Regions from separate parts of the Homo sapiens genome. Here region 2 is linked to region 1. A link means that fine-mapping ties the variant in region 1 to the expression of a gene that starts in the linked region. Tissue or cell type: whole blood. Region 1 holds a variant in brackets; the other region holds the start of a gene. All regions are shown on one strand. Distances are between the middles of the regions.

Evidence for each region. PIP is the estimated chance that this variant, and not a neighbour inherited with it, causes the effect.
Region 2: MAX starts here. The variant in region 1 is fine-mapped to the expression of MAX in whole blood (GTEx, PIP 0.98).

Annotation. Positions count from the first base shown.
Region 1 is chr14:65,164,578-65,172,402 of GRCh38, forward strand. No RefSeq gene overlaps it. Among named protein-coding and RNA genes, the nearest start is that of LINC02324, 54 kb to the right of the region's middle. RefSeq lists enhancers at 4,670-4,769, 6,333-6,392, 6,413-6,582. The variant G/A (reference allele first, on the strand shown) is at 4,500.
Region 2 is chr14:65,098,656-65,106,480 of GRCh38, forward strand. It overlaps MAX (MYC associated factor X), which reads right to left and starts at 3,862. Exons shown (of 5, transcript NM_002382.5): 1 at 3,649-3,862; 2 at 2,891-2,917. The coding sequence starts at 3,684. RefSeq lists enhancers at 2,933-3,433, 4,127-4,276 and a silencer at 3,447-3,796.

The DNA of each region.
Region 1 (7,825 bases):
TCTTCTAGGTGCATGTGTGGAGTCTGCAGTCACAGAGGAGTCGCCACTGGACAGGACTGGCCTGGCTGTAGTACATCTGTTGTACCCAGGGACGGGGAAGCCTCAGTGTGAAGGTTGCAGGGAGCCCAAAGCATCTGAGCTCCAACTGACTCTCTGACTTTGGACAGGTCACAAAACCTTCCTGTGCTTTAGGGATAATACTGGTACATGGCGTCAGGACATGGTGTGGAATGAAAAGAGAGGATGCATACAAAACACTTAATAGACTGCTTTTCAGGTAGTAAAACACTTAGGCACTGTTAGCTCTTACAACACCAGGCACCTGACCTGAGGGTGAAGGCAATGCTCAAGGTTGTGTAACTAGTAAGGACAAAGCCAGGACAGAAGTCCCACCTCCTCCAACCCAGGGTCTCTGCCTCTGACGAGGGACACCTGTCCCCAGCTGTCAGTGCTGACAAACCTTCCAGCCGTGCTAATCATGGCTGTCATTCTTACTTAAGTGCTTGAAGACTAGTTTTTAAGAAATTCCAGCCAGGTGCGGTGGCTCATGCCTGTAATCCCAGCACTTTGGGAGGCCGAGGCGGGCGGATCATGAGGTCAGGAGATCGAGACCAGCCTGGCTAACATGGTGAAACCGGGTCTCTACTAAAAATACAGAAAAATTAGCTGGGCGTGGTGGCAGATGCCTGTAGTCCCAGCTACTCGGGAGGCTGAGGCAGGAGCCTCAGGCGTGAACCCAGGAGGCGGAGCTTGCAGTGAGCTGAGATTGCACCACTGTACTCCAGCCTGGGCGACAGAGCGAGACTCTGTCTCAAAAAAAAAAAAAAAGAAATTCCTTCTTGAAATCCTGTTTATGCTATTAATTTATTTAGTGGCCAGGTGCAGTGGCGGCGGCTCATGCCTGTAATCCCAGCACTTTGGGAGGCCGAGGTGGGTGGATCACCTGAGGTCAGGAGTTCAAGGCCAGCCTGGCCAACATGGTGAAACCCCATCTCTACAAAAATACAAAAATTAGCTGGGCATGATGGCAGGTGCCTGTAATCTCAGCTACTTGGGAGGCTGAGGCAGGAGAATCACTTGAAGCCGGGAGGTGGAGGTTGCAGTGAGCTGAGATCGCACCATTGCATTCCAGCCTAGGTGGCAGAGCAAGACTCCATCTCAAAAAAAAAAAAAAAATTGTTACTAACTCATTTTTCTTAAAGAGCTGACAGTTAACTTCAGCCAAGTGCTACCCAGGGCTCATGATCTGAATCTGAGTGCTCAAAATCAAGTAGGTTTATGGTCCTGAGCATGTTAAAGCCAGCATGTTTAATAGGAGTTTAATAGGAGAGGAGTAGTAGAGATTCTGGTTCTGTTTGAGGCAGGAAGTTCACATGTAGGGCTGATATTGTCAGATTTTCTGATTTTCCAAAAGAAGCATGAAGTCCAGATTTTTTATGTGAAATATCTCACTTGATAAATCTTAACTAATTTATATTGTGTAAAAAAAGACCACAGGGACCAGATAAAACATGTTTGTAGGACACATTGCTCTGTGGCTACTAGTTAGTAACCCCTGAAAAAGCCTTAAGGTAGGATGAGGCAGGGCAGGGCAGCGTAGTTGTGGCACATGGTTTGTGTTCCCAGGGGCAACAAGAGTAATTCCATTTCAGTTTGGAGATCCTTGTCTAAAGCCAGTACATTTTGCTCAATTGATCATTATTTTTCTTTGGCTGAGTTAAGTAGCATTCTTCGCTCTTTCGCTAAAGGATCAATTCCTTGTCTCAGGAGCATTTGAAGCTTCTGGATGAGGATTAGAATGATTGAAATCTATCTGTGACCCTGTGGAGTGACTCCAGGCAAGTCTCAGATGCCTCTAACCCTCTCCATCCAAAATGCCCAATGCAGCTAGGTTTCTTTTAAGATCAGCAATGATTATTGTTTTTCTCTCTATGCAGAAACTTGCTTCAAGAAGGAGTCTCTACCTTTTAAGTGCCAGGCTAGGAGCCTCTTTATTGGACCACATTAGATCTTCCCTACAGCCCAATTTTGAATTATTATTTTTATTGCTTTCTTATTCTTTAACACTCAAAAATCTTTGGAAACATAAAAGCCTGTGATGTAGTTCATGTTGTGAGTTAAGGGAGGTACAAGAAGTGTGTCATTTCAGGTCCTCTGAGAAACACATGCCAAGATGGAATTAGGCAGAGCATAAATGCACGGGGGAGAATGTATGTGAAGGATATAGGGTGTGGGAGCAGGAGTGGTGAGGACAGCCCTCAGGCAGCAGTGCAGGCCTGGCACTTGCTGAAGGAGAGTGGAAAGGAAAGAGAGTTGGGTAGGAAGAATCTAGACTACAGCATAGCTCCAAGAAAGCCACAGCCAGGCTTATGGGAAGCCCAAGAACAGAGGAGTTGCCACTGGACAGGACTGGCCTGGCTGTAGTACATCTGTTGTGCCCAGGGAGGGGGAGGCCTCAGTGTGAAGGCTGCAGGGAGCCCAAAGGATCCATAGTGTAAGGCTGTCATCCTGCTACTCCTGGTAGCAGGTTCTCTCAAAGGGAGATCAAAGTGAGGTAGGAGGTGAGACTTTACTTTGAAGGCAGGGTTCAGATACTGGACCAAATTGGGGACTAACTAAAACAAGTCCAGGGCAGAAGCACCACCCCATAAGACACGCCCATCACTGTGCCCTGTCAGTTTACCATTACCATGGCAACACCCAGAAGTTCCCACCCCTTTCTGTGGCAATGACTTGACAACCTAGAAGTTACCACCTCTTTTCTAGAAATTTCTGCATAAACCACCCCTTAATTTGCATACAATTCAGAGCAGGCATAAAAATGAGTGCAGAACTTCCTCTGAGCTGTTACTCTGGGCCCACTGCCTATAGGGTAGCCCTGTTCTGCAAGGAGCAGTACCTCTGCTGCTCCTGTGCACTGGGCGCTTTCATCAAAGGCTGTTCAACACCATTGGCTTGCCCTTGAATTTTCTCCTCGGCAAAGCCAAGAACCTTCCTGGGCTAAGCCCCAATTTGGAGGTTCATCTGTCCTGCATCAAAAGGTGCTTTCTTGTGACCACCACAATCAGCAGGAAGGTTTTCGTGATTTCATAAATATGTGGTTATTTTTACTTATTTTTATACAATAAGAGGGAGGAGATTGTGGGGGTTCAAAGTTAGTCCTGGCTTTGTGGCTCCATCACTGTGCTGGCTGTGACCTTAGGCAAGGAGCTAAATTTCCTTATCCCTTTTGTTTATTTACTCGTTTATTTTTGTTTGTTTATTCGTTTGTTTTTTTAAGAGTCTTGCTTTGTCACCCAGGCTGGAGTGCGGTGGTGTGATCTCGACTCACTGGAACTTCTGCCTCCCAGGTTCAAGTGATTCTTGTGCCTCAGCCTCCCGAGTAGCTGGGATTACAGGCACCCATCACCACTCTTGTCTGTTAATTGAAAACAGTGAAAGTATCTCTCCCATGGAATTACTTTGAGAGTTTTGATAGAAGGTATGCAAAGTGCTTAGCACAGTGCCAGGTACCTAGCAAGTATTTTTACTTTGGAATATATTATAAGATGAGATCTAGGCTAACTATCCACTGATGATTACTTTGATTTTAGAGGGTCTTGTTTTTTGAAATGATATTGTTAAGGTGAGTCTGGTCAGTAGGCAAACTGAAATGCATGTATGGACAATGACCCCCAGCTCAGCCTGAGTCCCCCAGCAGCACTCTCCCACCAACCCTGTGAGGTAGGTTTTATTATGTTTAGTTTACAGATGAGCAAACTGAGGCCCAGAAAGATCTTGGTGATTTTGTGGAGCAAGTCATTCAGGAATGACCAGAGTATTGCATTGCATCCCCTTAGTTAATGATGGGCAGGTGACCCAGTAAGAACCAAGGAGATGTGGTGAGACTGCCCAGGGTAGCTGCGAAGATGTTGAGCTCTTTTACTAATGGTCTTGGACCAGGGAGAATGTGAGGCTGGTGATGCTGAAGCTGTCTTACCTGCACAAAGGTAAGCCTCTCTGAGAATGTGGCAGAGGCAGAAATATTTGGCCTTGAATGAGTGAATCTAATAGCCATCCAAACCCTTTCTCCTATAACTGCTCTTTTTTATTTTTTAATTTATTTTTGTTTTATTTTATTTTTAAAAAATGTTTGTGGGTATATAGTAGGTGTATATATTTATGGGGTAGATAAGATGTTTTGATACAGGCATGCAATGTGAAGTGAGCACATCATGGAGCTCTAACTACACCTGAGGAGATTGCTAGTTGTTTCAAAATACCCCTCTTCTTCATCATGTGACTAACAGAACTCCTCAAGTTTTAGCTGGGCACATGGCTACCCAAGTACTACATTTCCCAGCCACCCTTACAGCTGGTTGTGATCATGTGGTTATGTTCTGACCAATAGCATATGGGCAGAAGAGAAGTGATGAATGCAACTTATGCATTGCATCCTTAAAAGAAAGCTTCTTGCCCTTCTCTTATACCTTCTCCCTTCTTGGCTAGGATATGACAAC[G/A]GAGTGACTGGTCAGACTGCAAGGAAGAGGCAGAACCCTTTCACAATCTTGGGTACGGTTTGTTCTTTGACTGTTATATGAGGCAAAACCAAACCAAACAAAAAACACTGCTTCTACTGCAGGGACCAAAAAAGCTTAAAAACGTACTTTCCCAGCCTCCTCTGTGGCTAAAGTGGCCTCATGGCACTGATGTATTCAATCAACTGGAAGCAGAGGTCAGCTGGGAACTTTGGGGATTGATTTACTTTTCTGGATAAAAAAAAAAAAAATCGGAAGTTAGCTAGCCTCTTCTTTCTGCCTTGAATGTCTAGAGCTGGACCTGTCCTCCTGTGACCCTGAAGACAGTAGAGCTGAAATGAAGAAGGAGGCTGGGTTCTTGATGACATTACTGAGCTGCTGCATAGTAACGTCATCTATGCCTATTCTGGGCTGCTTGTTGAATGAGAAAAATAAACCTCTCTCTGGACTTCTTATGTGAGAAAAACAAACCACACTTTGTTGAAGCCTCTGTTAGCTGAGTTTCATGTTATTGCAGCCCAAATGCCCAAATATCAGTGAAACTTAGTGGTGTGTCAGACAGCCCAGATGTTGATGATGTCATCTGGCCTTCTGAATACAACTGTGCCTGAGACTAAACCCAAGCCCCTGGACTTTTCAGCTATTAGAGAAAGAGTAAGTTCTCTTTCTGCTTAAGCAGTTTAGGCTGGATTTTCTGTGGCCTGGATGGAAAGACCCCTGATACAACTATGAACCAATAGCAACTAGATACATTCTGTTTTCACCTCCTCTTAGTCTCTCCCCTGATTTTACGGTTAAAAAAAAAAAAAAAAAAAGTAAAATTAGAGCAAGGAAAGAAAGAAGAAAGGAATAAAGAAGGAAGGATAAGATAAGAAACAATAGAAGACTTGAACTAAATTAAAAGAGGTTAGAGGCCAGGCACGGTGGCTCATGTCTGTAATCCCAGCACTTTGGGAGGTCGAGGCAGGTGAATCACGAGGTCGGGAGATCGAGACCATCCTGGCTAACACGGTGAAACCCCGTCTCTACTAAAAAAAAAAAAACAACACACAAAGAAATTAGCCGGGCATGGTGGTGGGCGCCTGTAGTCCCAGCTGCTCGGGAGGCTGAGGCAGGAGAATGGCATGAACCTGGGAGGTGGAGCTTGCAATGGGCCGAGATCACACCACTGCACTCCAGCCTGGGCAACAGAGCGAGACTCTGTCTCAAAAAAAAAACAACAACAACAACAACAAAAAAAAAAACAAAAGGTTAGAAGCTTTTACAGTTCCTTTGTTTGGAAACCTGGGTCCTAGTGTCCCTTGCGCAGGATGCTCGTTTCTGACTTTTGTGGCCTGCCCTTGACACCATTCGAGCATATGGATTTCAGTGGGTAGTGTGACTCAGCTTCCCATTCCCAAAACTCCAGAGCCACATTGCTGGGTCCCTTCACTCTGCTTTACTCTCCTCCCAAGACAGACGTAGCATGGGCCACGTGAATTCATCCATGTCCTGAACTAATCTGGTTGTTCTACCAGGTTACTCTTAAGTTCATGGGCCATCACCCCCTTGTACTTACTGAGCTCCAGGGTTTTCATCTCTTCTGAGAATCGACCGTTTAGTCCAATCTTAGTACAGACCAGCATTAATAGGCAATTACCACAGGGAGATAATACAGAGGGAAAAATGGCTAAAAATATACAGTGAATCACAGAAAATTACATCTCTTAAAACCTACAGTGTATTCCTATTGCCATAGCAACCCTTGGCTAGTAAAGACAGAGATGATTTATCACAGGCTTTCCCCGGAGCTCGGTTCTGCCGGAAGCACCTCCAGCCTGTGGTGAGTTCCAGCGAGGAGGGCAATGCAGACATCATACAACCGGGTTTTCTCTCCTCCATCCCTTCCAGTGGCATTTCTGCGGCAAGAAGACTTGAGTTCCTTCTATATAACCCAGGTCATCTCCCGGCCCCTTTTCTGAGATGAAAGTGGCTGTCTCTAACCTCTGACAACGCGGCGTCCTGCCGACACGATGTGAATGCCAGCGGCAGCAGTGCGCTGACTTCCAGGAGGGGGCAGTGGGGCTGGGGGACATGAGGAGGCTGTAGGTGCCAGACCGTCTGAACAAATGAGGAGAGGAGAGGAGTTCTTTCTCCTCCTGTTCCTTTTCCTCCCTACTTCTCTCTCACCTTCCCACTTCCCTGACTCTCCTCTCTACCCTGCTACTTCCTCAGTAGGTCTACTGTGAAATGGACTGGACATACATCAGGACCGGGAGAAGAGAGAGGAAGTCATGTCCTCACTTAGGAAATGAGTCTGGTCTTTAGGAAGATTATAAAATGTATGTAAATAAACATCTTGTTATTTCGTTGGAACTCTAAAATTCACTGGCATAGATGCTGTGCTTTCTCATAATGTTAAAAATTAGATTCTTGAATGCTGTTTAAACATTCATAATTTGGAGAAATAGCCTGGACCAGAGTTTTGGAGAATCCACCTTCAAAAATAACCCTAGCTGGGGGGCAGTAACATGCACCTGTAGTCCCAGCTAGTCAGGAGGCTGAGGTGGGAGGATTGCTTGAACCCAAGAGTTTGAGGCTGCAGTGAGCCATGATCACCTCTGTAAATAGCCACTCTGCACTCCAGCCTGTGCTATGTAGTAAAAGATACCCTGTTTCAATAAAAAAAAAAAAAAAAAGAAGAAGAAGAAGAAGAAGCTGGAAGGAGCTCCCATTCAAATCTTGGACAATCTGAACTTTTAAAAAATAATAATAATAATCAACTGGGCACGGTGGCTCATGCCTGTAATCCCAGCATTTTGGGAGGCCAAGGCGGGTGGATCACCTGAGGTCAGGAGTTCGAGACCAGCCTGGCCAACACGGTGAAACTCCATCTCTACTAAAAATACAAAAATTAGCTGGGCATGGTGGTGAGCACCTGTTTTCCCAGCTACTCGGGAGGCTGAGGCGGGAGAATTGCTTGAACCCAGGAAGCGGAGGCTGCAGTGAGCCGAGATCACACCACTGCACTCCAGTCTGGATGACAAAAGGGAGACTTCATCTAAAATAATAATAATAATAAATTGGATAAAATGTGAAAATCTAAGTCCATATTAATATAAGCAAATAAATAAATGGAGAAAAAGAAAAAGGCTTTCCTTAGAGTAAAATTACAACTAATATAGGTATAAGAAATGATAAAATTAGAAAATGACCATTTGGTAAACCTTAGAGTCATTAATGATTCAGGCAAGAATTATCAAGGGATGTTAAAACTAGTGGGTAAAAATTTGATGAGAAACAGTGTATTTACACAATCTCAAAGTAGA
Region 2 (7,825 bases), 66 kb before region 1:
CCCTCCAAAATATAATAAAAATAACATCAGTGGGATTTTGCGATGTACTGAATTTAGTAGTAAGAATACTCTTTGGGGTTACTTCCTTTAACAAAGCTTACTGGCCATTGGAGAAGCTGTTTTCCGTTTGTACTGAAGCAATAGAAAAAAATATTTGCCAAATCAGTTTCACTTTCTGTTAGAGTTAGCCTAACTTCCTAACTCTCTTCTCAGTATCTTACATTTCTCATGTAGTAAGGCCTATATATTGTAGTGACATTATAAAACATACATGAATGTTTTTATATTAGGATCCACAGAACCCTTTTCAAATAACTTTTTCAACATCTTCTGTAGTCCTGAATACCTAAGTATTTGGTTGTTCACAGTCCACATCTTTTTTTAAACCTTTTTTCTAAGGCAAAACTTAAGAATAGCTCCCTCTTAAATTTTAAAAAATATATTTATTATCCATATTAAATATTGAGAAGTAAGCAGATGCATTCACAGAGGGGAAAAAATGGAATCCTTTTTACCCTACACAGTCACAATAGTTGTTTGATATACTATAAAATTTGTTTATAACATATCTGCTTTTTCTCTCCATGCTGTTGTAATTACATTGTGCAGAGTAATATTTAGAAATATCAACAAATAGATGTGTTAAATTAAAAACAAAGTGTCAAACCAACTTCCTTTGCCTACCCCCAAAATCAAAAGGAAAAATCCTAGGCACCTTAACAGCAAACTAAAAACATCTAGACAAAACAATGAGATTAGCATTCCAGGAAAGCAGAAACATTATAATAATTTAATAACAAATTTATATCAACGATCATATGGATGAAAATTTTGAAAAGCAGAAAGCTTTCAAGAACTGCGAGCCAAAATTTCACCAAAAAAACAAACAAACAAACAAACAAACAAAAAAAACACAACTTTCTCTTACTGGGAAGTCAGTATAATTTCAATTCAAAGGATAATTCTGCAAAGGAAGGCTAAACGATCCTTACCCTCCAGCTCTGATCAAGCCCTAGCACAGATTTTACAACTGGAGACTTGCAGGGAAAAAAAAAGTTTTCAACAGACTAGGCCCCAAACATGAAGGATAAAAGTAAATGTGAAAAAGGAATTCAATTTTCAAATATATGCATAAGTATATGAGAATACTTCAAGGATAAATAAAATAAAACAAATTATCTTTAATGACTATTACCCAGGGATAATTTTTAAGACTTTTGGAACAACTACATCCCCGGATTTTATGGAAATATCAGCTCTCAATAAATAAGTTTTCTTAATGCCTATCTGCTTAGACAACCTGCACAATCTTTGCTTGCTCTAATGAAGAGCAGGTATAACTGAGATGGCTTGCCTTTACCCTGTGGTTATCAAGTTCTTATACCAGAGGTATCAAAGTGACATCCTGCAAATTCTAACAAGCCCCCAAACAGTTGTTCCACACATCATTTTAAAAATCAGAAAAATAACATAAAGTTTTAGATTTCTAATCTTTCTTAAAAAATAGGAAGATCGGCTGGGCGTGGTGGCTCATGCCTGTAATCCCAGCACTTTGGGAGGCCGAGGCTGGCAGATCACGAGGTTAAGAGATCGAGACCAGCCTGGCCAACATGGTGAAACCCCGTCTCTACTAAAAATACAAAAATTAGCTGGGTGTGGTGGCACGCGCCTGTAGTCCCAGCTATTCGGGAGGCTGAGGCAAGAGAATCGCTTGAACCCAGGAGGCGGAGGTTGCAGTAAGCCGAGATAGCGCCATTGCACTCCAGCCTGGTGACAGAGTGAGACTCTGTCTCAAAAATAAATAAATAAAATAAAATTAAAAATAGGAAGATCTGGCAATACTGACCCTTCACTCCTACTAACAAACCACTGGAGTTCAGTAGTGCTGACTTTTTAGAAGAGGCACTGCTCTCCAGTACCCAAGCCCTCACCTCTTCCTTCTTTATTCTTTATGGCCCTCATGGGCATTTGAACTTTTTACCCCCATTCTATACATTTCTTACTGCTCCCAACTATCAAATATTAGACACTCTGATATACTTATTTCTCTTCCCCTCGCTGATTCTGATTTATTCTGTGTGTATTCTTTTTTCCCTCAAATCTATTCATGAAACATCCATATTACTGTCTCAGACTCCAAAGACATGGAATTAGTGCTTATCTAAATCCACAGAACCATCTACTGAGAACATTAATATCAAAACCCTAAGAAATTATTGATAACACTCTATGGTCTCATCCATCACCTTTCAGCAAAGCTGTCTCTGCAATGCCACTTTTCTTCAGCTATTTTTTAATTTTCTTTATACCTTTTCTTCAAATACAGAGAATCAGACCATAATAACTTTATGTGACACTTTGATGATGTAACGTTTGGCTCCTCTACATTTCCAATTTTTGCATTAGAATACCATGTTGTGCTAGATTCTACGGGTCTATAGCAGTCACATGACTTGGTTAAAGGCGATTACCGCATGTGGCTTCAGCTTCACACAATTATACAGATATGGTTTAAAACCTACTTGTTCCTAAATAAATCTTCTGACCACTTTGCCCTGAAATAATACTACCAGACCAGAATGCTGCATTTCTCATTTCCACTTACATAGTGGCATCTGGATCCCCTATCTGAAAACTACAGAACAATTCAATTCTTTGCATACAGCTCCTCTTACTCACCTAGAATCACTGAACTTATCACCTGAGAATCTAGAATAATGGGATTTGCAACCCCCCCACCCTCCAGAACCAGGCCCCACCTCACCTTAGTGGTTAACATTAGAGTTTACTACAATATTAAAAGTAATAGTACGATCTCTTTTTCTCTCTGACCCCAAAAAGGAATAGAACTGAACGGAAATAAAAATGAAATGGAGAGTAGGAGACGTACCGCAGATTGAAACCTCGGTTGCTCTTCCTGGAATAAGAGAGAAAAAAAAAAATAGAAAATATAGAAGTTATTTTTACACTTAACATTCAATAATAAGAAAGAAAATGCCGGCGGCAGAGGAAGCGGAGGGTGGGGAGTCAGCCCGACACCCCTTCCTCCCTCCCCACCCCTTGCCCCCACCCTTCCACCCTCGGCGGGATCCGGTAGCAGGGTAGAGGGGTCCCGAGCGCCGCCCCTCCTTCCGGGATCCGACCTGGGCCAGAGGGGTCCCGAGCACTGTCTCCTCCCTGCAGACCCAGCTCGGGCATCTAGGCACCCCCAACCCCTCTCCGCCCTTCCCCGGCCCCCAGGATCCGCGGGTCACGGGAGGAGAGGATCGCAGTCCGAAGGGGCAGGTCCTGAACGCCGTCCCCTTCCCCTGGATCCGGACAATGGGATCCCGGGCGCCCCCCATCCTTGTCCCCCGGATCCTGAGCCGGGGAAGGTGGGAGCGGGAGGCCGCAGCACCCTCCCGCAAGGGAGGAGGTGGGGGTCCCAGAAGCCGCGTGTCTTCCCCCAACCTCCAGTCCCAGGAGGCCGCTCCGGCCAGGAGCCGGAGGGGAGCGAACCGGGAACGCGACGGAGGCACTCCTGGCCCCGAGGGGAAGGGGAAGGAGGCGGCGGCAGCCCGGCCCCCTCCCGCCGTCGCCCCGCTAAGAGCCCCGGCCGCTGTCCCCGCCTGACAACCCGCACGGGAAGGAAGAAGCCCCAGGACTCACGTCGCTCTCCACCTCGATGTCATCGTTATCGCTCATTTCCTACGGCCCAGGGAGCGGCCACTGCAGCGGCGGCGGGGAGGGGAAGGGGTGAAGGGGAGGGGGAAGTCACCGACAACAACAAGCCGAGTCCCCCCCACACACACACTCACTCACTCACTCACTCGCTCTCTCACTCACACACACACACAACACGGGCAAGAACCACCTCCTCACTGCAGCACCGGATCAACGGCGGCACGCACGCCCGGTCGGCCCCCGCCACGTGACCAGGCTCGCAGCGCTGGGGCAGCCGAGACTTGTAGTTCTTGTCCCTCTAACAGACGGCCCGGGTAGCTCCAGAAAAACTACAAATCCCGGAAGAAACCGCATCCAGGCGACGCCAGCCCGGCTTGTTGACGGAGCCCAAGGCGCCTGCGCGTCCCGGGGAGGGGGGGGGGGGCGGGGGGGGGCGGGGAGAGCCGCGGCGCGGCGCCTCCTGGGAGTCGTAGTCCGCAGACCGCGAGTTGTCAGGAGATTTTCCTCCCGAGGCGGCAGAGGAGGCTGCTGGGAAGACAGGACACGTGGAGGGAGCTGGAACTCCTGGAGCCGGGCACCGTCTGCGCGCTGGACGCCGGGCCCAGGGGACTGGGTGGAGTCTCTGGGGGAGTAGCCGGCTGTCTAAATAATGCTGCCTCTCTTTGGTGTGACTGGTTATACTTTGTCTTCTTCATACGGAGTGGTTCCGTTTTGCGCCTAGGGGCGTAACCCGCCCGGGAGGGAATCTGGCTGCGGCGGACCAGGGGGCGCGGCTCGGGATGCCTGCGCGAACCCTCGGGGGCTGGTGGGGAGGTGTCAGTGGCAGGTGTTTCGTGGTGCTACCGGACAGGCAGAATGACCGACCTCGCCGGGCGACCGCTCCCAGCCGCGAGAATCCTGTATTCGTTTATCTGGGAGTGACCATCCTCGCTACTCAGCTACTCACGTGAGGCTCCAGCGTTCACACAACGCGAACCCTCAACCACTATGGACGTGGAAGTAAAAGCCCCTTCAGAGTTTGTTGTAGCCCAGACAGTTTAGGCAATATCCCAGCTCAGAGTACCATAATTAAGATTGCAAAAAGGATCAATATGGGAAACTTTTGCAGTTCCCTGTCCAGTTAAAATCATATTTATATACTGTGGCATGAAGTGTAATCACATGCATTCCACCGATATTTATTGAACACCTAACTTGCCACAAGGGGATGCCATAACGGATAAGACCAAAACCATCCCTGCCTTCATGCAGCTCACAGCTGTGCAAGCAAGCGTGCCGGTCCTGCCGCCATTGTAAGAGTGTGCAACAAGTCCCATGGGAAGGAAGAAAACCATAACAGACACTTTCCACCCTGAGACAAAGTACCCATACTACTCCTTTACATCTGGTCTCCAAAGTGAATGACATCTTGAGCTTTTCCCATGAGTTACTGATTCCCGGATGAATACCATATTATCCCTGACTTTTGAATGTGGAAATTTGGGGATATGTCACACACAATTCTTGTGACACACATTCCTCAACGTGAGCATGTCATCTATGCTGAAAAGACAAATGTAAATGTGGTAATTTTTCCTTTACATTTTTTCCTTTAATATCTATTGTATTTCTTTCTCTCTCTCTTTTTTTTTTTTTTTTTTTTTGAGACGGAGTCTTACTTTGTCGCCCAGGCTAGAGTGCAGTGGCGCAATCTTGGCTCACTGCAACCTCCCTCTCCCGGATTCAAGCGATTCTCCTGCCTCAGCCTCCCGAGTAGCTGGGGCAGGCGCCCGCCACCGCGCCCAGCTAATCTTTGTATTTTTAGTAGAGACAGGGTTTCACCAACTTGGCCAGGCTGGTCTCGAAACTCCTGACCTCGTGATACACCCGCCTCGGCCTCCCAAAGTGCTCACGTGCTCACGCCTATAGCGTGAGCCACCGCTCGCGGTCTAATATCTGTTGTATTTCTTATTCAGTGATCCAGTCCTACTAAGTCTGCACATCTTTGCAAGTGAACTTACCTTTTCTACATGCTTTTGTCTCATAGTGTTCCTTTCCTGCTGAGTTGGGGAGACAGATATAAGCAGACCATTATGTGATAAGAGCTGATGGGCTATTGGGGAGACAGACGGCCACTTTTGAGTGAGTTAATTAACTGGATACTAGAAGTTAAAGCTAATTGATGATTACAACAGACAGTTCTTGGGTGCCTGCTATGAACAGAGCACTCTAGGGCAACCCCGGCTACAAGTTAAAATCATCCTAGGAGCTTAAAAAAGTTCCCATCCCCAGGCCACACCCCAAACCAATTAAGCCAGAACCTCTGAAGGGGAGATCCAGACTGAAGGATTTTTTTTTCCAGACTGAAGGATTTTTTAAAGCTCTTCCAGTAATTCCAGTGTGCACCCAAGACTGAGAACCACAGCTATAGACGATGCCAGAATAAATAAGATAGTTTCCCATTGAACTGTATGCTTTTAAAGAGTGAATTTTATGGTATGTCAATAACTATATTCCAATAAAACTGTTATAAAAGAAAAATAAGATAATCTTTACCCATGTGGAATTTAAAACCTGACAGGAGTAAATTATCAACTCAAATAATTGTGATGAAGACAAATTATGTAAGTGTCAAATTGTTTGTATAGACAGTGAATGCTGTAAGAGCTCAGAGGAGGAAGAAGGAGTGCCAGGTATGAGGTGGGGTTGGGGAGGTGTTGGTGACCAGGGAAGTCTTCTGAGGTTGTCAGTTGCATTAGGGTAAGGGCTGGGTCTGCAAAGGCCACGTAACATTTTGCTTATCGTGAATAACGTGGACTGAGGTGAGGAGGAAAGGCTTTCCTGGTAGGGAGACTGGAGATTTTAACACATCTCCTTTTAGGAATCAATAGAATATGAAGACCTGTCAACCTGATTAAGAAATTTGACCTAATAGACATAACACTGCACCCAACAGTTGTAGAATATGTTGTCTTCAAGCACTCATGGAACATTTACAAAAATTGACCATGTACTTAGCTATAAGGCAAATCTCAACAAGTGGTTTTTTTTGTTTTGTTTTGTTTTTTTGAGATGGAGTTTCGCTCTTGTTGCTCAGGCTGGAGTGCAATGGCGTGATCTCGGTTCACTACAACCTCCGTCTCCCGGGTTCAAGCAATTCTCCTGCCTCAGCCTCCCGAGTAGCTGGGATTACAGGCATGAGCCACCACGCCCGGCTAACGTTGTATTTTCTGTAGAGATGGAGTGTCTCCATGTTGGTCAGGCTGGTCTCGAACTCCTGACCTCAGGTGATCTGCCTGTCTCGGCCTCCCAAAGTGCTGGAATTACAGGTGTGAGCCACCCTGCCCAGCCAAATCTCAACAAGTTTTAAAGGACTATAATATTAGTGTATTCTTGGACCTAGTGCAATTAAAGTAGAAAAATAACAAAAAGTTAACTAGAAAAGTCTCATACATTTGGGATTTAAGAAACTTTTAGGCCGGGCACAGTGGCTCACTCCTATAATCCTAGCACTTTGGGAGGCCAAGGCGGGAGGATCATTTGAGATCAGGAATTCGAGACCAGCCTGACCAACATGGGGAAATCCCTTCTCTACCAAAAATACAAAAATTAGCCAGGTGTGGTGGCACACGCCTTTAATCCCAGCTACTCGGGAGGCTGAGGCAGGAGAATCACTTGAACCTGGGAGGTGGAGGTTGCAGTGAGCCTGGGCAATAGAGTGAGACTCAGTCTCAAAAAAAAAAAAAGCAAACTTTCAAATGACCCAAATGTAGGGATTTTCATGAGTGAGGCACATACACACAGGAAAGAACGAGGCAGATGAGAAGTTTCCTTAGTGTTCCTTTTCAGTGTTTCTCTGAGGTGCATCTAGGACCGCAAGAATTCATTTTCATCCACACTTGAGTGTCTTTGGTAAAACCCCAGGTGAGCTTATCGGGGCTGCACTGCAAACACATCACAAGGAAGCTGGTAAGAAATACAGAACCTCAGTCCCCACCCAGACCTACTAAATCAGATCTACATGATAACATTAGGCCCAGGTAATTCATATGCACATTGGAGTCTGAGAGCTGTGATGAAGAGGGAGTGGAGTAGCGGTGGTGTGAGCAGGTGGATTCCTTCCATTATCTCTTTAGCTCTTTTACAGTTTGGCTCCCACACTACCACTTGACTAAAATCACTC